4 separate regions of the Homo sapiens genome follow, and regions 1, 2 and 4 are each linked to region 3. Evidence: fine-mapped expression QTL. A gene starts in region 3. Each other region holds a variant in brackets. All regions are shown on one strand. Distances are from middle to middle. Region 1 overlaps LOC105371291 (a long non-coding RNA gene). Region 2 holds the start of LOC105371291 (a long non-coding RNA gene). Region 3 holds the start of ADGRG1 (adhesion G protein-coupled receptor G1). Region 4 holds the start of LOC107984889 (a long non-coding RNA gene).

The links. PIP is the estimated chance that this variant, and not a neighbour inherited with it, causes the effect.
Region 1: its variant is fine-mapped to the expression of ADGRG1 in whole blood (INTERVAL, PIP above 0.99).
Region 2: its variant is fine-mapped to the expression of ADGRG1 in whole blood (INTERVAL, PIP above 0.99).
Region 4: its variant is fine-mapped to the expression of ADGRG1 in whole blood (TOPMed, PIP 0.98).

The regions. Positions count from the first base shown.
Region 1 is chr16:57,578,990-57,585,113 of GRCh38, forward strand. The region is part of intron 1 of LOC105371291 (a long non-coding RNA gene); the gene reads right to left. Among named protein-coding and RNA genes, the nearest start is that of ADGRG5, 39 kb to the left of the region's middle. The variant G/T (reference allele first, on the strand shown) is at 3,282.
Region 2 is chr16:57,605,064-57,610,063 of GRCh38, forward strand. LOC105371291 (a long non-coding RNA gene) reads right to left here and starts at 1,959. Exons shown (of 4, transcript XR_933627.4): 1 at 1,665-1,959. It also overlaps the pseudogene HMGB3P32. RefSeq lists an enhancer at 4,784-4,883. The variant C/CA (reference allele first, on the strand shown) is at 2,657.
Region 3 is chr16:57,624,985-57,631,241 of GRCh38, forward strand. ADGRG1 (adhesion G protein-coupled receptor G1) reads left to right here and starts at 3,646. Exons shown (of 14, transcript NM_201525.4): 1 at 3,646-3,818. RefSeq lists enhancers at 2,827-3,482, 3,483-4,138, 6,107-6,257 and a silencer at 3,688-3,757.
Region 4 is chr16:57,592,383-57,597,648 of GRCh38, forward strand. The region is part of intron 1 of LOC105371291 (a long non-coding RNA gene); the gene reads right to left. It overlaps LOC107984889 (a long non-coding RNA gene), which reads left to right and starts at 2,973. Exons shown (of 2, transcript XR_001752212.2): 1 at 2,973-3,092; 2 at 5,111-5,266. RefSeq lists an enhancer at 530-609. The variant G/A (reference allele first, on the strand shown) is at 2,533.

The DNA of each region.
Region 1 (6,124 bases), 46 kb before region 3:
CAGCCTTGCACATCCTCATTCCCCTCAATGCAGACTTCAAATCTAGGGTGGGGCCTCCTTTCAGCCCCACCACTCCCGCCCTTCCCCCATGACAGACGTTATTTCTTTGTATTATGACTGTCCCCATCTGTCTCAGCTGCCAGACCGAGGGCATTTTGGAGACAGGTGCTGTGTCTCATTGGCTCATTCATTCACCCATCATGTAATTGTTAAACACTTGTTATATTCCAGGCACTGTACTAGTTGCTGAGGATATATAAATGAACAAGTCATCACATTCTTGTGGGGGAGGAATGTCTCACACTAAACAGTTTAACAAATAGACATAAGATATGACAGGTGGCGACAAGTGCTGAGAAGAAAAATTGAGGAGGGTGAGGGAGTAGAGTGGCCAAGAGCCTGGGTTTCAGCAGAGGGAGCTGGAGAATGAACCCAGGGGCGCTGGAGCTGGGGGCGTGGGAGAGTGTCAGAGAGCTGGCATGAACTGGCAGGTTGCCTGGAGGGGAGGGCTGGTTCCAAAGCCAGTCTTATAGCAATTTTTCCATTTCTTGATAGTGAACTTTGGAAGAGCTAGGGGTGGGGAAGATGGGAAGTTGAACCACCTCTGAGATAAAACTCTCTGAGGGGGCTGAGGTGGTCCTGGGTTGGGGTGCCCCCTGCTACTGGCAAGAGAGAAGCAAACTCAATATGGAGGTAAGCTTCCCTTGGTTAGGCCAGGAGGATGCCCAGAGTGAGACGAAGCAATGGGCTTCAATATAAAACTTACCCAAATCACAAAGTAAGCCACCGAGTGAGAGTCGGCAGAAAAGAAGGAAGCAACAGATTTTAGACCCCAGGGACGGAATACAGAATAGCCATATATGACACGTTTAAAGAAACACAAGATGCAATCGCAAAGATGAGCATATAAACGAATAGAAATGAAGAGAGACAGAGAGATTTGGGGGAAAACAAATGGAACTTCAAGAAATAAAAAGTATTATCTCAAGTTGGATGTGGTGGCTCATGCCTTTAATCCTAGTGACTCAAGAGGCTGAGGCGGGAGGATCACTTGAGGCCAGGAGTTTGAGACCACCCTGGGCAACATAGCAAGACCCCTGTCTCTATAAAAATCAAAAAAATTAGCCAGGCATGGTGGGGCACACCTGTAGTTCCAGCTACTTGGGAGGCTGAGGCGGGAGGATTGCTTGAGCCCAGGCGTTTGCGGCTGCAGTGAGCCGTAGTCACTCCACTGCACTCAAGCCTGAGTGGCAGAGCAAGACCTTGTCTCTACTAAAAAAAAAAACATAAAAAACTCTCAAAATCTAAAATTCAACAAACAAACAGTTGAATAGAGAATTAATTAGCCCAGCGTGGTGGCATGTGCCTGTAGTCCCAGCTACTCAGGAAGCTAAGGTGGGAGGATGGTTTGAGCCTGGGAGGCAGAGTTTGCAGTGAGCCGAGATTGCACCACTGCACCCCAGCCTGGGTGATAGGGCCAGGCCTTGTCTTAACAACAACAACAGAAAAAAAAAAAAAAGAGAGAGAGAGACAATTAATAAGCCTGGACTTATATACATAAAGCATGCAACAGAGATAAGAAGATGGATAACATGAAAAGAGATTAAGAGATATAGAGAATAAGAATGAGAAGATCTTATATATTGGAGTCCCAAAAGAAGAAAATAAAGGGAATGGGAAAGAGGTGGTATTTGAAGATGAAATGGCTGCAGGTTTTCCAGAAGCGATGGAAAAACACAGTCTCAGAACCAGGAAACACGAAATATCTCAAGCATAATACATAAATCCATGCTTATACACATTTTATTGAAACTACAGAATGTCAGAGGGAGAGAAACGATGAAAGCAGGCAAAGAGAAAGGACAGATTGCCTACCAACGACCACAGAACGTGAGCTGGCTCCTCAACCACCGTGACAGAAGCTAGGAGGCAGCAGTAATAGCTTTAAAGTGATGACAGCAAATAAATGTCCACTTAGAAGTGTGTCCAGCAGGGGCCAGGTGCTGTGGTTCACGCTTGTAATCCCAGCACTTTCGGAGGCCGAGGTGGGCAGATCACCTGAGGTCAAGAGTTTGAGACCAGCCTGGCCAACATGACGAAACCCCGTCTTTACTAAAAATACAAAATTAGCCAGGTGTGGTGGTGCACGCCTGTAATCCCAGCTACTTGGGAGGCTGAGGCAGGAGAATCGCTTGAACCTGGGAGGCAGAGGTTGCAGTGAGCCAAGATTGCGCCACTGCACTCCAGCCTGGGCGACAAGAGCAAAACTCCGTCTGAAAAAAAAAAAAAAAAAAAAAGAAGTGTCCAGCAAAACTGTTACTGGTGGAAGGTATCCGAGTTACCGTTGGTGAATCCGTCTGGATCTGCAGCAACCTCTTGCCTCCTCAGAAGAAAGAGTTTGACTGAGGGGTATAAGGCAGAAGGAGAGACTGAGGTAAGTTTCAGAGCAGGAGTCAAAGTTTATTGAAAAGCTTTAGGGCCGGGAGCAGTGGCTCACGCCTGTAATTCCAGCACTTTGGGAGGCCAAGGCGGGTGGATCACTTGAGGTCAGGAGTTTGAGACCCCCCTGGCCAAACATGGTGAAACCCCATCTCTACTAGTAAAAACACAAAAATTAGCTGGGCCTGGTGGTGGGCGCCTGTAATCCCAGCTACTCGGGAGGCTGAGGCAGGAGAATTGCTTGAACCCAGGAGGCAGAGGTTGCAGCGAGCAGAGATGGCGCCACTGCACTCCATCCAGCCTGGGCAACAGAGCGAGACTCTGTCTCAATAAACAAAACAAAACAAAGAGCTTTAGAACAGTAAGGAAAGGAAGGAGAAGAAAAGTACAATGTGGAAGAAGGCCAAGTGGTTGACCTGAGAAACCGAGTGCGCAGCTTGGCCTCTTGACTTGGGGTTTGATACCTTGGCATACTTCCAGGATCTTGGAAGTAAGCTGCTTCCCACTCCGGAGATCTTACTGGGAAGCTGCTGATCAGTTGCAGGTGTTTTCTATTAGGAGACTGCCTTTCCCCCGTACTGGCTGTGACCAATTACTAAACAGAAACAGTTAACAACCACTTGACCACCACCTGATGGTCACCCAGCACTCCTAGTGTGTGTGTGTGTGTGTGTGTGTGTGTGTGTGTGTGTGTGTGTGTGTGTGTGTGTTGGGGGGAAGTCCTTTCCTGCCCTGCTCATACCTAACTAGCTACCTACTGTAATAAAGCTACCATTCAGGAACCAAGACAAAAAGGAAAAAAATACATTTAACATTTACAGGTAAATAAAAGCTGAGAATGA[G/T]CCAAAGAAACTCCCGAAGGATGTACCTCAAGAAGGAAGATGATTCCAGGTCAGCCTAAGATGCAAGAAGAAGGAATGGTGAGGTTAGAAAATGGTAAAAGGCTGGGTACAGTGGCTCACACCCATAATCCCAGCACTTTGGGGGACCAAGGTGAGAGGAGAGCATGAGTCCAGGAGTTCAAGACCAGCCTGGGCAACATGGTAAAACCTCGTCTCTACTAAAAATACAAAAATTAGCCAGGCATGGTGGTGTACACCTGTAGTCCAGGCGACTTGGGAGGCTGAGATGGTAGGGTCACCTGAGCCCAGGGAGGTCAAGGCTACAGGGAGCGGTGATTGTGCCACTGCTCTCCAGCCTGGGTGACAGAGTGAGACCGTGTCTCAAAAATAAATAAATTTAAAAAATAGTTAAGTGTAGCTAAAGCCAATCCAAAAATCATCTGTATAAAATAATAATTTTATTTGTGATATTAAGAAGAAGGAATGTGAAATGTTGGAGAATAATAGTGTATAAATCAGGAAAAGTAAGACTGGAGTTACAGTGTCCTAAAGTGTTAGCTAGCATTTGTGCGGAGGGGTAGGGAGGGTGTTAAGATATTGTTTAATATGAGATATCATTAATTAAATACACGTGGTAAAACTTCAAGGGTTTAATTGCCTTTAGCTCAAAAAAAGCAATTTCAAGGGCAACAACTGAAAAAAAAAATAAAACTGGAATGTAGACATTTTATTCCAGTAGAGAGAAAAAAGTGGGGTAGATAAAACAATCAAATAAAACTCAAAGAAAAAGAAACAAAAAGTGGAACTAATAGAAATCCAAAAGTAAGATAATACAAACATACCCAAATATATCTATAATTATAATAAATATAAATGGACTAAATGGATCAGTTAAAAGGCAGGAGATATTAAGATTGAATGCAAAAACAAAACCCAGGTATATGCCATTCATAAGAAACGCAGCTCAAGTAAAAGGACATGGAAATGTTGAAAGTAAAAAGATGAATCAAGGCTGGGTGTAGTGGCTCACACCTATAATCCCAACACTTTGGGAGGTTGAGGAAGGAGGATCGCTTGAGCCTAGGCATTCATGACCAGCCTGGGTAACACAGTGAGACCTCATTTCTAAAAAAAAAAAAAAAAAAATTTGAAAATCAGCAATGCTTAGTGGTATGCACCTGTAGTCCCAGCCACTTTGGAGGCTGAGGCAGGAGGATCACTTGAGCCCTGGAAGTGAAGGCAGCAATGAGCTGTGATCATACCACTGCACTCCAGCCTGGGCAACACAGTAAGACTGTCTCAAAAAAAGAAGAAGAAAAAAAAAGATGAATCAAGATATGTGAAGGAAAAAATAACCAAATGAGAGACTGTGTAGCAATTTTGATATAAAACAAAATATGTTTTAAAGCACAATGCACTAATAGAGATGATCACAACATAATGATACAGTGTTTAATTCACCAAGAAGATATAATAAAGTAGCCTTAAAAGGTATAAGGCAAAAATTGGGCCGGGCGTGGTGGCTCACGCCTGTAATCCCAGCACTTTGGGAGGCTGAGGTGGGCAGATCACGAGGTCAGGAGATCAAGACCATCCTGGCTGAATGGTGAAACCCTGTCTCTACTAAAAATACAAAAAATTAGCCGGGCATGGTGGCACGTGCCTGTAGTCCCAGATACTCAGGAGGCTGAGGCAGGAAAATGGTGTGAACCCGGGAGGTGGAGGTTGCAGTGAGCTGAGATCACACCATTGTACTCCAGCCTGGGTGACAGAGTGAGACTCTGTCTAAAAAAAAAAAAAAAAAAAAAAAAAAGTATGAGGCAAAAATTGAAAGAAGTTTTTAAAACTCTACATAATTGGAGAGTTATGCCATATCTATGAATTGGAAGACTCAATATTGTTAAGTTGAAAGGATTCCCTAAACTGGGGAGATTCAATGATATCCCAAGCAAAATCACAACAGACTTTTTTCCCCACAAAGGCACAAAGGCAATTTAATGGAGGTAAAGGATAATCTTTTCAACAAATGGTACTGGAACAAATAAGCGTCTATACGCAAACAATATGAACCTCGACCCATATCTCATACCATGGACAAAAATTAAACGAATCATAGATCTAAACATAAAGTACAAAGCTATAATACCTCTAGAAGAAAACATAGGCAAAAATCACTGTGACTGTGGTTAGACAAACAAATCTTAGGACACAAAAGCAGGCAAAAATAGATAAACTAGACTTCATTCATAGAGAAACCAGACCTATTTATAAAAAATAGATAAACTAGACCTCACCTCTGCTTTTCAGAAGACACTCTTAAGGAGAAATAAAACAAAAAACTAGAAGAAAAGCTTTGCAAAAATACATATCTGACAAAGGACTTATATCCAGAATAAATAAGAACTCACATGCCAGGTGCGGTGGCTCACACCTGTAATCCTAGCACTTTGGGAGGCTGAGGTGGGCAGATCACCTGAGGTCAGGAGTTCAAGACCAGCCTGGCCAACATGGTGAAATCCCATCTCTACTAAAAATACAAAAATTAGCCAGGTGTGGTGGTGCATGCCAGTAATCCCAGCTACTTGGGAGGCTGAGGAAGGAGAATCGCTTGAACCCGGGAGGCAGAGGTTGTAGTGCACCAGATCGTGCCACTGCACTCCAGCCTGGGCGACAAGAGCGAAACTCTGTCTCAGAAAAAAAAAAAGGAAAAAAGAACTCTTACAACTAAAAAAAATATAATCAAATAAAAGATGGACAAAAGGCTTGAACAGACCTGTCACCAGTGAAGGGATATGAATGGAAAAGAAGCACATGAAAAGATGCTCAACATCTTTAATTATAAA
Region 2 (5,000 bases), 21 kb before region 3:
TTATCAACTGTATATGTCCATAGTTTGTAAAAAGAATAAAACAACTGAGGCAAGCTCTTGATGCTTCTTGTCTGGCATTGAGGCTGTGGGGAAGGTGCCTTTTGGAGGGGCCATAGCTGAGGGCATGCACCGTGACGCTGGACCGGTTCACTGTGCAGTGGGCATTCATTTAGCTTCAAGTTGTCTTGTTTCTGTATGTGGTGACAGCTTTCTGCTGCCATTCTTAGCTAAAGGCAAAGATGGGGGGGTCAGCTGGCATGAGAAGTGTTTAGTTTTTGTTTTGTTTTTTAGTTAAGTGTGGTGGTTTTTAAACTGTAGAACTCTTCATTGTCACTAAAGCAAAGAGTCACTGCAATGAAAATTCAGGAACCTTCTGTCCTTAAACACGATTTGCAACATTCTGTTATTTTTTTTGTATGTTTAGAATGCTGAAATGTTTTTGAAGTTAAATAAACAGTATTACTTTTTTTTAAGTTGGATAAAGGATATAAACATTTGTTTCACAGGAGAAGAAAGAAAAATGGATGATGAAGTTATGAAAAGATGCTCGGTTCCACTCAGAATTACAATAGGCACACTAAAACAATTTTTTGCCCATCTAGAGAGATCACCTCCACATTGGAATGGATATGGTGGGACTCTAAATTGGTACTACTTTTTAAGGGGGCAATTTAGCAGTGTCTATACCTTTTTTTTTTTTTTTTTGACAGGGTCTTGCTCTGTCACCCAGGCTGAAATGCAGTGGTGCCATCATGCTCACTGCAGCCTTGACCTCCCCGGCTCAAGTATCTGTACAATTTTTAATTGCACAATTCTATAACCTAGTAATCCCTCTTTTAGGTATCTTTCCTTTAGAAATAGCCACACATGTGCCAAAATATATATGTTAATTACTGCAAAGTGTATTACACTAAAAAATAGGACCCCTTAATTTCCTTCAATAGAGGGTTATGGCTAAATAATTTTACATTCTATGCAATGGAATTCTTGTACTAATGAAAAAGAATGAGATGGAACTATACATTCTAAGCAGAAATGATATCCATTATAACTTGGCAAGAGAAAGAAAAGCGAGTTGCAAACACTGTGTATAGCATACTAATTCTATTTTTGTAAAACAATTGCATATATGAGTTACAGGGATATATAATAATCATGTCTCACAATTACTGAATGTTTACTGTGTAAACCAGGAGCATTGAATTATTATTACTCCCATTCTACATATGAGAAAACAGGAACAGAGTGGTTAAGTAATTTGCCCAAGGCGGCACAGCTGGTAAGTTACAGAGCAAGGATTTGAACTCTGGCAGCCCAACTCCACAGTCTGAGCACTTAACCCTATACATGGCCTTATAGGCCAAAAATACTTCTGTTAACAGGGATGACCTGGAAAATCAAGAGTGGAGGGGCAGAGTCACTTTTTAATAAATACTTCTAAATAGACATTAAAAAACACGAACTGGTAAAAAGGACTTATAGTGAAAAGCCCATTTCCTGCAAGCCCCCTCCCCAGAGGCAACCACTTCTAATAGTTCGAGCTCATGTGGCAGTTACCTCCAGAGCCATAAATAACATGCTTCTACTGCCATTTCCTGATTTATTAACCTTGGACATTATCTGTTGACTTCTGCAAACACTCAGAAAAGGAAAAATCAGCTTACCTTTTTTCTCCTTTCTTCTTGTTATGTTGCTTCTTGATAACAGGGCTGTTTGCTGCCACTGGCTCTGGTCTAGACCCTGGGCTGGACACTCGACTGCACAGTTGCCAAGACTAGGCCCACTGAGGTTCAAGACAAAAAAAGGACTTGCCCAAAGTCACTGTGAGTTGGTGTTGGAGGTGGCACCCGGCTCCTGGTCTGCATGGCTCCAGGGCCGGGCTGTCTCTGTGATACCCTTTGGCCCACCCTGAGAGTGACTCTTGTGCCACCCCTGGCCCACGCGGGCCTCTCTCACTCTGGCAGAGGCTTAGCATGGCTGGGGTGGGTGGCCCTGGCTGGGTTCCTGCTGAGGGCTGGCTGAGGCCTCCTGCTCAGGCAGGGGCAGGCATATTTGCAGAGCAGCAGGTGCAGCCTCCCAGTGTTTGGCCAGCCAAGGGTTTTATTCTCCAACACTGCCAGACCTAGACTTTGACCCTCAGGGACTTCTACACAGCTGGCCTTCCAGATCACTGCCCCCATAGCCTCTATATCTCCAGGGGAAAGGCTGAGCCAGTGGCTGAGACTGGCAAAGTGCCGAGCACCAGATACCCAGGACCCTTAGGGCGAAACCACCAGACTCACATGCCCCAACCCTGCAGTCGCCTGGGGCCATCGGGCGGGTGTGGGGGTGGGGGTGTATAGGGGTAGAAGGAGCTTTAAAAAATTACCAGTGCTGGCCAGGCATGGTGGCTCATGCCTGTTATCCCAGCACTTTGGGAGGAATAGGCGGGCGGATCACTTCAGGTCAGGAGTTTGAGACCAGCATGGTCAACATGGTGAAACCCTGTCTCTACTGAAAATACAAAAATTAGCCAGGCGTGGTGGCGCATGCCTGTAATCCCAGCTACTCGGGAAGCTGAGGCAGGAGAATCACTGGAACTTGGGAAGCGGAGGTTGCAGTGAGCTGAGATGGCACCATTGCGCTCCAGCCTGGGTGACAGAGCGAGACTCCATCT[C/CA]AAAAAAAAAAAAGGATGTCCTGAAGGCCTCTTCAGCCCAGAGAGACATGGGCTTGCGGGCTGGGGGCAGACAACAAAGAAACACGGGGTTGGGGTGCAAGCCTGGGACTTGTAGGGGCCCCTAGCAGTGAAGAAAGGCTTTGCCTAGCACACGGTGGCCCCTGAGAGGATGCGGGTGGCACCGTCCCCACCCTTGTAGTCCCTTTTCCCAGACATGAGCTCCTGGCAGCTTTATTTGGGGTAGAAGAAGGGTCCTATTTATGCTGTGTCTGCATTTAGAGAGGCTGTTCACTCATTAAGTTACAGACTCTCCACCTTTCTGAACCTTGGTCTCCCCATCTGTAAAATAGGTATATGGTCAGGAATGGGGGTGGGAATTGAGGATTGTGGGAGCCTTCTGGCTTTAAAATTATGAGCCCTGAGGAAGATCCCTGAAAGAGCCTGTGCTAGGTAGGTTATGACTTTGGCTGCTGTAACAAACTCAAGAGTAAGAACCCATATAAACAAGAAGCCGTTTACTTCCATCCCATGCGAGGGACCAGGCTGCACGGTGGCTGTGGTGGCTCCTGGACTTTGGGCACTCATACCCCTTCCCTTTTTGCTCCTCCAAAAGGGTGCACCTCTTTTTTTTTTTTTAAGAGCATGATGCAAGATTTGCAGACTTTACTGATGGCTGCATCCTATTGTTCAGAACTTGGTCATGTGGCCACCCAGTTCCAAGGAATGTTAGGTAATAATGTCTTTATTGTAGGGGGCCATGAACCCAGCGAAAATATGGGGTTCTATTGGTATAGAAAGGGGAGGTGGATATTGAGGAACACTTACAGCTTCTGACATGGAATCTAGAGGTTGCTTGCTGGAGGCCCCGAGGGTGAGATCTAGCCTTAGATAGGCTTTGTTTGGCTTATGACAGGCTTTAAATCCATTTGAATTCATCCCCAACTTATAACAATTAAGATTTTCACATTAATTTCAAATTTCTGGCTTCCTTGAAAAAACTGAAGGATCAGGCCACATGGGGCTCATATTTCCTCAAGTGACAGTTCACTGGAGCTGGGCAGTGCTCCCCAGCGTGGCCCATACTCTCCAGTTCACCCCAGGTCCCCCCACTCCCTATTGTCTCCCACCCTGCCCCCTTCCTGCTCTCATTAGCTTTGCAGCCTGGCCGCTGTGGGCACTGTAGTTTGTGACTCTTGGCCCAGCATAGCCACCAGCTTCTATAAACAAGGAAATTGAGGCACAGAGAAAAAAAGAGACTTGCCCAAGGTCACCCGGTGAGCCTGGACAGAGCTGGGACTGCAGCTGCCGCCTGCACACTCAGCCTCAGCGTATTTTCTGCCGCACTGGTCACTTGAGGATCACCTGGGTGCCCATGTACTCAGGAGAAAGGATGGCCCAATGGTTAAGCCATTAGGTGCTGGAATCTGATGGGTCTGGGTTTGAATTTTGGCTCTGTCACTTTTCAGGGCAAGTAACATCAGCTCTCTGAGCCTTATTCTTTTTCTTTTTTTCTTCCTTTCTTTTTTTTTTTTTTTTCCTTTTTTGGACAACGAAATGGGATAATAATAGAGATTGCCTAATAGAATCACATGAAGATTAAAGTGAGGTGCAGGGCCATTGGCACTGACGGTGGGCACCTCCTTAAATGTTACACCCTAAGTATTTTGCTCATTCCAGCCTGCACAAGAAATCCTAATTCCTGGGACAGGAATTCAGAGACAAGTGGAAAAGCAGAGGGCTTTATCCCCATGCAACTGGGGGATGTGGCTGACCCTTCTGTGCGATGCAGCTCGGTTTCCTCCCTGTGGGGCCACAGCAGCCCCAAATTGCTGAGATCAGTCTGCATGGCAAATAGAATCTGTGTCAAGCTGCAGAGGTGGACCTGAGCCATTCTGTGTCGGGCTGTGCCGGAAACAAAAACACCTTCTCTGTCTTAGGAGCTGCGCCCACCTGCCCTCTCTTTCTTCAGCAGCCAGAGCTGCCTGCTCGGGTGTTAGTTCTGGCATGACTTGGCGTAACCTCAGGGAGGCACCACTGCGTCTCCTGTCAGCTCTTCTAAAGCTATGCCTCCGAGTATGGCGTGCTTTGGGGCCAGCTGTGACAGCTGGGGAGCAGCCCTATGCACCCCCACTACAGTCCAACATTTGGTTTCAGATTCTATTTATATACATTATGTACCTAGATACTTGTGGGTTTGATTTGGTTTTGTTTTGATTGCACAAATAACATTAGAACAGCTATAATGGAAACAATTCTAAAATGGAAAAAAAAAAAGGCACGCACAATGCTATCAGTTGGCTCGGCTTCCTAAAAGCACTGCTTAAGTGCTGGCAATAAGCCCCGC
Region 3 (6,257 bases):
CCAAGTCATCCAGCTGGCCGGCTGGGAGTAGAGGCCAGCTGGCCTGAACCCAGAGTCTGTGATCACAGACTCCGGGCTCAGAGAGGGTGCAGCAGCATTGCCCCCTCTCCTCTGTCCCTCAAAACGAAGGGTTTCCTGCACCTTCAGCTTTCTGCTTTCCCCACACCATCTCTGGACTCCGTCGCCAGCCAATGATGCCATGACCTTCTCTGGGCCTGGCGACCCCAGTCCCTCACTGCTGAGCCCCAACGACGTGTTTCCAGCTGCCTTGGGAAGCAGGGGGGACCTGTGGCTTCCCCACATGACACAGAGCTGCCCCCATTCCATTGCACACAGGGCAGTCTCTTCTCTGCCTTCCGGATCTGCACCCCATCCTGTGCCCCGATTCTTCAGGGACGTTTCAGACATCTTCCCCCTCTCCTCGGTCCCCACCTTCACTTGTCGGGTTGTGGGGGGTGGGGTGTCCCAGCCCTTTTCCTGGTCTCTTGGACCAAAGTCTCCTCCCCCGCTCTTCCCCCATCTGCCTCCTTCGAGGCCCCATCCGGACCCAACTTCCCCTCTACTCCTCTGCCCATCCCTCCGCATCATTGCTGGTACAAGTCCCTGGCGTCTAGACCAGGGCTTCTCACACCTCCAATTCTGGAATCCCCTGGGCATCTTATTAAAATACACATTCAGATTCAGCAGGTCTCAGGCTATCTGTAGGTCTGAAGACCACATTTTGAGGGCTAATCAGGCCTCTCCCTACCCAAACATCTTCTCTGGCTCCCCAGTACCTTTGATTTAAGCCCAAACTCTACACTTTCAAAATCTTCCAGAATCTGCCCCTTGCTGCCCAGTTAGATCCCACTTCCTTCCAAGCATGGCTCCATGCCCTACCTCTCCACCTCAGCCAATGCTGTTCCCTCTGCCTGGGGTGCCCTTCCTGCTGGTCTCTGTTTATCGAAGCCCCCTTCTTCTCCTTCAGGTCCCAGCAGGGGCTCTGGGGTCTACACGCTTAGTTCAGATCCTGGCTGTTATAGAAAGGCGTGGGTAGCCCTCCCTGTACCTCGGTTCCCCTTCTGTAAAGTGGGGATAGACTGTTGTGAGAACAGAAGGAGAAGATGAAGTGCCTAGCAGGGGCCGGATATCTGGTGTCCCGTGTTTGGTTACAGCCCACACACCTGGAGGCCCAGCCAGGTCCAAGCTGTGCGACCTTGGCTAAGTTACTTCATGTCTCTGACCATCTCTAACATACAAGTGGTACCCAACCCACAGGGTTGTGTGGATAAAATGAGAATGATCTGTACAAGCAGAGCATCTTACACCATAAAACCTCCAGACATAGCAGGTGATTATTAGTCCTGTTATCAGCACTCATAACAGATAGTGTTGTGTTTAACAAGTCATTGAATTTCTCCCCCTTTACTCCCAGAGACCCCTGGATGCTGAATACCAACTCCAGGTATCGCTACTATGAGAACCAGGCTTGTCTCTCTAGCCAGACTCAGAGCTGGGGGCCTGCTTCCTCACCTGCCTGCCCCTAGCTCATAGTAGGTCTCTGCAAAGTCCGACGGTGAGAGAGGCAGGCAGAGCTGGGCAGCCAACTCCGCCCAGCCAGGCAGCCCCATAAGCCTCTCCTATGTGGCCAGAGTGGCAGCTGGCTCCGCACTCTCTTCAGCCATCTGCAGAGAGAGTGGTGCCTTCAACTCTCCATCTGTGCCCTTCTGGTCAGCACGCTCTGTGGGGTGTGTGTGTGGTGGTGGTGGTGGGGGGACAGCTGCCCTGTGGGCCTGGTCCCTGGGGAACAGCTGAGGCTGCCCGGGTTACCAGTTGATCAGGCCCTGAAGGACTGACCTTGGGGAAACTGAGGCAGAGGTGGTGGTATGTCAGGGACAACCCATCCTCCCCTAGATAACTCACTTGTCCTCCCTTGTTAGTGGGCCCCCAGTGTAGGCTGGCCTCTGCTGCTTTGGCAATAAGGGAGTTCCCACTGCAGCCCCGGGAGAGAGCAGAGGGTATGACATGGGCCCAGTCCCCACTGTGCCTCCCTGCCCCAGGTATTGGCCCACAGCCTGGACTGGGGACTGTGAATGTGGGAAGCACAGTGCCGTTTTCTGGAAGCTCTCACCTTATGGCCTCCCTGCACCCCACGGGGTGGCTTTGTGGCCCTTCCTTTCTGCAGCTTGATTTCAAGCAGGTAGGTGAGGAGTGCAGTTCACCTGCAGCAGCCCTGGCTCCTAGGCTGCCCGAGACGTTCCATTCATTCTTCCTCCACGTGGCATGGGGAAGCTTTTCCTGGCCCCCTTGTTTAGAAGGCAGATCTCTACCGGAGAGAAGGAATCTCAAGTTCCCCAAGCATCCACGTGTCCAGGCCCCAGGCTGAGGCCTGGGGTGCTGGATTGCTGAGTGGTTAGGAGACCCGCTATGGAGCCAGACGGCCTGTGCTCCCGCCATCCCAACTCGGGCACCTCCCTGCTGTGTGATCTTGGGCAGGTTAATTCTCATCTCTGAGCTACATGTATCTGCCTTAAGCTCCCTCTTCTTCATCACCACATTCACAGGGAGTATTTATTGAGGGCTTGGCAAGTACCAGGCACTGGTCTGAGTAGCAGGTTTGACTTCTCTCCACTGCCAGGGGCGCTCTGGAGCTGGAATGCAGACGGTGGTCAGCGAGTGTAATTACTGTTATTGTCACCACTCACCCTTCTGGCATTGTAAAAGCCTCCCAGCACATCTGACTGAGGAATCATCTATCCTCATTGCTCGGAGGAGGAGGGCAGACAGGAGCCTCTGCAGGGAGTGTGAGTTATCCAAAGCCTCCTGACTCGAGAAGGGCACTGAACCCCAGCAGCGGGAGGTGCTGCTGACAGAGGAATGACCAGAAGGGGGATGGGGCATGGTCCATTTCCACACTTCTCTGTCTGAGCTTTTGGGGCCACTGGGAATGGCTCTTCACCCAGGCCTCGGTTTCCCCTTTGGCTCAGCAGATGGATTAAAGGAGGCCGTTTCCAGAAGCCCCTGGGGTCTCAGAATCCAAAATGACTTGGGATGTTGAAACTGTGGGTGCTTGAGGAGCACTGAGAGGGGAGACGGGTCACCCCCCGGGGGGACGCAGGTCAGCCGGTCAGTCGTGCGTGGCCTGGCTGGCCTCCTGCCCGGCTGCCTGTCACCCGCTCCCTCCCGACTGCCTTCCGCTCTGCCGGTCAGCACTGGCTCCCGTCGGCTGCCAAGGAGGCTGGACTCTCCTTCAGGAAAGGGCAGTTGTCGCCCTGACCTGGGGGGTGGGCGGACAGCATCCAAGGGCCCTGTTGCCGTGGCAACCCCGGCCTCTCTGTGGGAACTTTGGGGAGACTGGCCCTGGGAGGCGACAGATGGAGGCTGAGGAAGCAGAGTGATCCCCGGCCCCTTCCTGTCCCTGAACACTGTCTGCCTGGATGAGGGGTGAGGCTGAGGTGCCCCCTTGCCCGGCGCTGAGTCATGGGCATCCCCCAGGATCACTGCCTCAGCGCTCTCAGCCCTGCCCCCTCCTGGTCTCCCTCTGAGAAATCCATGACTCACATATATCGTCCGTCATCCCCAGTCAAGCTCAGGGAGGAGGGAGGAGCCCAGCTGGGGCAGGAGAGGGGTGTCTCCCCACCAAACAAACCCGGTCCCTCCCTCTCCGCACTAGCTGTCTGCCCTGCCCTGCCGTAGGAGATGGGCTGGGAGCCTCCCACGCTCTCCAGCTCACTCGGCAGGCAGCGGGGACCAGGGCTGGCAGGTTAAGCCTCTGGGGGTGGATCCTGAAAGGTGGTCCAGCCGCCTGGCCCTGCGTGGGACCCTCCACCTGGCAGCAGGTACCCAAACAAGGGCTGGACAGCAGGTGGGAAGGGGAATAGTGTGAGTGTGAGAGTGTGAGTGTGTGAGCGTGAGTGTGTGAGAGTGTGAGTGTGTGAGTGTGAGTGTGTGAGAGTGAGTGTGAGTGTGAGTGTGAGCGTGAGAGTGTGAGAGTGTGTGAGTGTGAGTGTGTGAGAGTGAGTGAGAATGTGAGTGTGAGTGTGAGAGTGTGACTGAGCGTTTGAGTGTGAGAGTGTGAGTGAGTGTGTGTGAGTATGAGTGTGAGTGTGAGTGTGGGAGTGTATGTGAGTGTAAGTGTGGATGTGTGCATCCGTGCACGGGTGGCTGTTGGACAGTGGGTAGGGATGGTGGTGAAATGGGGAAATGGGGGGGTCTTGGTATCTTGGTGGGATCTAGTCCAGGTCAGCATGGCTGTGGGTGGGTCTCTAGAGTGGGGGCGGACCCACAAGGAGATGCCTGGGAGGGGACTGGGGCCCAAGGGGAGCGACACCTCCCGGGGCTCCCAGGCATTTTGTTGCTGGAGAAACTGAGGCTCAGAGTGGTACAGTCACTGGGCCCAGCAAGCTGGGGTCTGCTCTTTAGGCTGTGAGATCAGTGCTCCTACTACACAGATGGGAGAACCGAGGCTCTGGGAGGGCAGGTGGCTTGCCCAAGGTCACCTAGCACATCCAGGTATAGAAAGCCAGGGGCCAGGCTCAGGGAGGGGGTGGCACTTGAGGGAACTCCTGAGGACAGCTTTCCTGCAGCTGTCCCTGGGGCTGGGTCCGGGGTCCCCACTGAGCAAGGGACAGCCGTGCTCTTCATCACCAAGGCCAGCTTTGGGAGAAGGTGGCCCCGCAGGGTCTCTGAACGTGGGCCACGTGGGTGAGAGTCCTGGAACCGGTGACAGGCAGACGGGGAAGCGCAGGCTGCGGGCTGAACACCCTGCCCGTTGCCACCAGACCTCAGGGCTCCATCTGCCTGGCACTGATAGGACTTCCCACCCTGGTCCCCGCGGGGGCTGGGAGTGTGTAGGAAACCAATGATTCCTGTCCTCCCCCGTCCCCAACCCACCTCCCCTGCGTGGTAGAGTTGGGGTCTCCCTGTGCCCCACTGGGAGAGGTCTGATGTTCATTTTACTGCGTAGGGAGGAGGGGATGGGTCAAGGCAGGGGCCTCCCACCCCCACCAATGTGGAGCAGTTGTAGCCTGGGGTCCACGGGCTGTGTAGGAATAGCCTTTGTTGCTCCTTCAGTGGACCAAGAAAGTTATTTATAGAAGCATTTATTGAGCGCTTACTGTGCACTCTGTGCTCTGTCGGGAACATGGCCGTGGGTGAGGCAAATAAGGTATCTCAGAACTCGTGAGTGGCCCAGACCCAGAGCCAAGCCCCCTGCCCCTCCCAGAGGATAGCCCCGGGCAGCCTGTTGGCTCCTTGGGGTCAGAGACTGTGTGAGAAGGAGCATATCTGGGCATTAATAACCATGGGCTGCCAAGTTGGCTCCCCAGAGCCCAGGCAGGGGTCCTGTTGGGCTCTTTCCTGCCAATGTCCAGGTGTGGAATGAGCTCTTAGGGCCAGACCTGACCCCTTCTTTGCTGCAGGGACCCGAGATATGCACCCACCTTGGTCACAGCATCACTGTGGCCCCCTTGCCCTTCCTCTCCTCTCGCCTCAGGAGCTCAGCTGCTAAATGGGTGTGTAGGGGTGATCACAGCTGCCCTGGCTCCCGTAGGCCTGGGGCTTGGCTCCGAGAGTGTCGGGTGATGGAGAACGCCGCTCCAGGTGTGATCTGTGACGGACAGGCTGTGTCCCGGCCTGGGCCACTGGGCAAGGGCCAGTCAGCCTGGTGTGACACTTCCTTTTGTCAGGGATACAAACAAACAAACAACAGTTAGGAGGTGAGATGGAGGCGTGAGATAAGCTTGCTAACAGAGGGCCCAGAGAAGGGGAAGAGGACCAGGGAGCCTCTGCGGAAGGCACTTAGGCTGGGCTTGGGAGAAGGTGGGAGGGGAAGGGACTGATGTCTGTATGAGCACTGTAGGGGGAGTCCTAGTGGAGGAAACTACTTAGGAAAACATTTGGGGAACGATACAAGCTGGGGACCACGGGGAGGGTGATACCGGACCCCTGGCATGGGTCATTTCATGGGACTTGATGAGCCAGGCCAGCAGGTCTCAATCTGCTCTGTGGGGGGGAAGAGAGGCAGGAGGACTCGCCAGGCAGGTGCTGTGTGGGGCTGGGGGCCCAGGCTGCAAACCCAGCAGGACGGGGAGGGCCAGGATGGGTGTTCAGTGTGAGGTTGGCCAGGCAGTCCCAGTCTCTGGCTGCTGGGTTAAGGCTCAAGCTTGGGAGCAGCTTCACGTGTGAGGGAGACGAGGGGGAGGTGGCGCCCAGTCGAGGGGAAGGACAGGAGAGAGGTGGCAGAGCTGCAGCAGGGTTGGTGTAGGGGTTGGCCTCCT
Region 4 (5,266 bases), 33 kb before region 3:
TATTAATTTTTATGTCACATTAGACTCCAAGGCCTCTCATCCCCTGCATGGGTAGGAAATTCAACTCGTCCTTTATGGAGAAGGCCATTGGGTTAAACAAAAATCTGGGTGGCTTAGGTTGCTTGCTCCTGGAAGGAAAACGGGGGAAGGGCCTGGGGTTAGACTCCGTGGTCTCAACGTGGTTCTCTACACCCTCCAGGCTTGGTCCAGGGAAAGCTTTGCTAAGGCTGAGAAGCCTGCTTCTCAGAAGCACGCCAGACCTGCTTTCAGGCTGTGCCTGGCACAGTGGGAGCCTCTGGTCTCAGACAGGCCCTGCATTTGTTCCCTTACCCAGGAACCCAGGCTGCAAGAACACAGACCTCTCTGGAGTGCCTGGAGCCTGTGGGCTTGGCTGCTTCCGCTAGCAGATGTTAGAGTGGGGAGAGAGGTGTCACCCAGCCTGGCCCGGGTGGTGCAGGGCAGGAGGGTTTCCTGTGGGAGGTGACTTCTACACCAAGACCACAGTGTTGAACAGGGTTAGGCAGGAGAAAAGGGAGGGGAAGTGGCACAGGCTTGGGGTTGGGTGTGGTGGGGGTAGAGAGAGAATGCAGGAGAGTGGGCTTGGTGAGCAGAGTGGCGGTGGGAGGAGCTGGAGAGAAACCAGAAAAATAAGGAAGAGCCAATTATGGTGCTCGGGAAGTAGGGAGATACTGAAGCTCTTTGACCAGGGGAGTTCCTGATCCAAGTGGTGTTTCAAGAAGATCACTCTGGCAGGGGGTGGAGGCAGGTTGGAGTGGCATCCAGGGAGGAGTAGCTGTCCTAGATTGTGCTTGGGCATCAGCAGCAGGTGATGATGAGCCACCACACCTGGGTCATGCTGCCAGCAGGAATAAAGGGAGGGGCGAGGCTCTGGGAGGTGCTGGGAGGTAGAACCCACACTGCAGGTCAGGTGAGGGTGAGGGTGAGGTTGGAGCATCATCAAGGCTGATGTCTTGGACTCTTGGGTAGTTGGGGTGGCCTGTCTGTAACTAAGATGGGGAACCCAACGGAGGGAAGAGAATTGGTGATGTGTGTGGCTCGGTTTGATTGATAGATTGGTGGATTTTCAGAGACAGGATCTACTCTGTTGCCTAGGCTGGAATGCAGTGGCACAATCAAAGCTCACTGCAGCCTCAAACTCCTTGGCTCAAGTGATCTTCCCATCTCAACCTCCTGAGTAGCTGCAACTACCGGTGTGCACCACAATGCCCAGCTATTTTTAAATTTTTCTGTAGAGATGGGGGTCTTGCTTCATTGCCTAGGGTGGTCTTGAACTCCTGGCTTCAAGTGACCCTCCTGCTGCAGCCTCCAAAAGCATAAGGATTATATGTGTGAACCACCATGCCTGGCCTAGTTATTTATTTTTAAGCATTAAAAAATGGTAAACATTTAAGCATTAAAAAATGGAGAATACACAGGATATGCCCATAGTTTAACAAAAATGATAAAGCAAATCCCTGTGTAACTACAACCCTGGTAAAGAAAGAGAACATTGCCACCACCCCAGAAACCCCCACCGCCAATCCTCCATCACAACCTCACTGTGCTGGAGAGGGAAACGTTATCCCGACACTTAGAGGAATCTCTCTCTCACTTTTATTTATGGTTTTACCACCTGTACAGTTTTAAACAATACAGTTTTAGCTCTTTAGTTTTAGTTTTAAAACAATACAGTTTTAGTTTTGCTTATTTTGGAAGATTACATGAATGAAACCCACCTTCTTTTACTCAATGTTATGTTTGTAAGATTCATCTGCATTGCTGTATGTAGAAGTAGTTTGTTCCTTTTCAATGCTGTATACTATTCCAATATGTGAACATACTATGATTTATTAATCCATTAATTTCCTGGTGGATGTTGGGATGTTTGCAGGTTAAGGCTGTTACCAACAATGCTACTATAAGCATTCTTATAGGTGAGTAGCGGTACAAATATGCATGTACTTCTGCAGGCTATGTATCTGGAAGTGGACTGTCTGAACCACAGGTCATGAGCATCTTCAATGTTACTAGATAATGCCTGCTTTCTAAAGTGGTTGAACAAATTTACAACCCCTCCTAGCCATCCTCCACCCCCTCCTAAGTGTTCCACAGAGCCACACTCCGTATGGCTAATTTGGGGAAATCTCATGGGTGGGTCGTGATGGCTCATTGTTATTTTAAGTTGTATTTCCATGGCATGTATTTATCGGCCAGTTGGATTTCCTCTTTTGAAGTGCCTATTCAAATGCTTTTCCAGCTTCTTATTGGGTCATTTGGCTCTATAGCAGACACATCTGGGGCCAGCATCACTCTGATTTCAGCCTCCATGTCATGGAGCCTCCCACTGCCAGAAAGCCAGTCTTTCCACATTCTACCCAGGGACTCATCCAACCATGTGGGAAAGCCTGGAATGGTGGAGAAATGCCCCAGCCTCCTGACCTTCATGGAAACAACCCTGGAACTCTCAGGGGTCTTGGAGGTCCCAAAGGAACCCAGTCTTCAGTACCTACAGCAGTGACCTTGACAATGCCC[G/A]TGAACTGGGTTTCTACCTCCCTCCCCCACCAACTCTGCTGCTGGCATGACCTTCTAGATATACTGCCTGTACCCAAGTCCTTGTCTCAGGCTCACTCTTCATTTCTTCCTTGTCGATTTGTAGGAGCTATTTATGTATTCTGAATAGTATTCCTTTGTCAGTTATATTATTGTCAATATATTCTCCCATTCTATGAGTTTTCTTTTTCACTTTTTTTTCCCTGCCGTCTTTTGACAAACAGACATTCTTTAGTTTAATATATTCTAATTGATTAAACTCTTACTTCTGGTTAGTGTTTTTTTGTGTTTTTTTTTTTTTTTTCAGAAATCCTTCCCTGCTCCAAAGTTTATGTTATGGCTTGGAAGTTTAATAGCTTTTCACCCTTAGGTCTTTAATTGATTTTGGTAACTGGTATGTGCTAGGGTCAAATTTCATTTTTTTTCCCGTAGGGATACCCAACTGTTCTAGCACCATTTATTGAAAAGTCAACTCTTCCTTCAATATTCAGAAATGTCACCTCTGTCATAAACCAGGCAGCCACATGTGTATTAGACTGCTGGTGAGTGCCCTATCTTGTATATTTCTGCATGTCTTAAATTAGTTCTCAATTAAGTTTTAGAATTTTATCTGGGTTTTGCACATTTCTAGTTAGATTTATTTCTCAGTACTTGATATATTTTGAAGTATTATAAATGATGGTCATATTAGTTATCATGGCCATGTAACAAATCACTCCAACACTCAGTGGCTAAAACAACAAAATTTATCTCCCCATTTTTGTGGGCCAGGAATCCAGGGGTAGCCTAGCTAAGTGGCAATGGCTCAAGGTCTCTTATGAGGTTTCAGTCAAGTTGGAGGACAGGGCTGAGGTCTCATCTGAGGGCCTGACTGTGGAGGTGATCCACAGGGCTGCCTCATGACATGGCAGCTAGCTTCACCCAGAGCAAGTGATCTGAGAGAGAGAGATAGTATCAGAGAGAGAGAGAGAGAGAGAGATAGTATTCAAGATGGAAGCCACACTCTTTATAACCTAATATCAGAAGAGACATCCCATTATTTCTGCCATATTCTATTCATTAGAAGTGAGGCACTAAATCCAGCCCATACAAGAAGATGAGATTACCCAAAGGTGTGAATACCAGGAGGTAGGGTTCACTGGGAGACTTCCTTAGAGGCTGCCTATTGCAGTGATTTTTTAAAAATCTTCATTTCCTGATTCTTATGGCTACTATATAATTTTACATAATTGTTATTTTTTTTTGAGATGCAGTCTCACTCTGTTGCCCAGGCTGGAGTGCAGTGGTGCCATCTTGACTTACTGCAACCTCTGCCTCCCAGGTTCAAGTGATTCTTGTGCCTCAGCCTCCTGAGTAGTTGGGATTACAGGCACATGCCACCATGCTCAGCTAATTTTTGTATTTTTAGTAGAGATGCTGTTTCACCATGCTGGCCAGGCTGGTCTTGAACTCCTGGCTTCAAGTGATCCACCTGCCTCAGCCTCCCAAAGTGCTGAGACTGCAGATATGAGCCACTATGTCTGGCCTCACAATGAAGTTTTAATATTGATTTTTGTATTCAGCAACCTCGCTAAACTCTCTCATTGAATATAATAGTTTATCTGTGGATCGCTTTGCATTTTTCATATACTCGTCATATCATCCGTGAATGATAAAGTTCATTTTTATCTTTCCAATCCTTGTATGTTTTATTTTATTTATTTTCCTTGGTACACAGGCCAGGTCTTACAGAACAAGAGTTTAACAGCTGTGGTAATAGTGAGCTTCCTTATCTTGTTGCCAATCTCCAAGGAAAAGTTTTTAACAGTTTCACCTGAAAGTATACTATCTGTTGTAGTGTTTCATATACCTGTATATTAGATCAGATATTATCAGATTTAGGGAGTTCCCTTCTGTTTCCAGTTTGCTAAGGGTTTTTGTTTGTTTTAAAATCATGAATGAATGTTGAATTTTGTCAAACATCTCTTTGCATATATTGCGATCATTATTAGAATTTTCTACTTTGATCTTTTAATGTCATGAATTACATTACTTTTTTTGGTAATGTAAAATATGTATTGCATTTGTTAAACCTAACATTATCCTTTTATATGTTACTGGATTTAGTTTACTAATTTTTTAAAAGAATTTTTGCATCTATGTTCTTGAGAAAGAGTAGCCTGTAATTTTTCTTTCTCATACTGTCTAGTTGGGTTTTGGTGTCAAGAGTATGCCAGCCTCATAAAACAAGTTTGAGTCTTCATAAGAGTTTGGGGCCAACTTGGAATTATTATTTATTCCTAGAATGTTTGGTATAACTTGCCAGTGGAACTGCCTGGCCTTAAGTTTTCACTGTGGGAAGATTTTTGAGTATAAATACAAATTCTATGTCTAGGACTGCTCAGAATTTCTATTTCTACTTATGTCAATTTAGGTAAGCAATGCTTTTCTAAGGCTTTTTATAAAATTTAAATTTATTGGCATAAAGTTGTTCACAATATTATCTTTTTATATAATTATGGTCATAATAATGTTCTCCTTTTTCTATCTGACATAGGTTATTTGTGCTTTTCTTTTCTAGTGTCTTCGTTATTTCTCCAGAGGTTTGCCAATTTTACTAATCTCTTCAAAGATCCAATTTTGATTTTTGTTCATTTTCTTAATTGTATGCTTACTATTTTATTAGCTTGTGCTTTGGTCTTCCGTATACTTTTTTTGGGGGGGGGTTGAATTTACT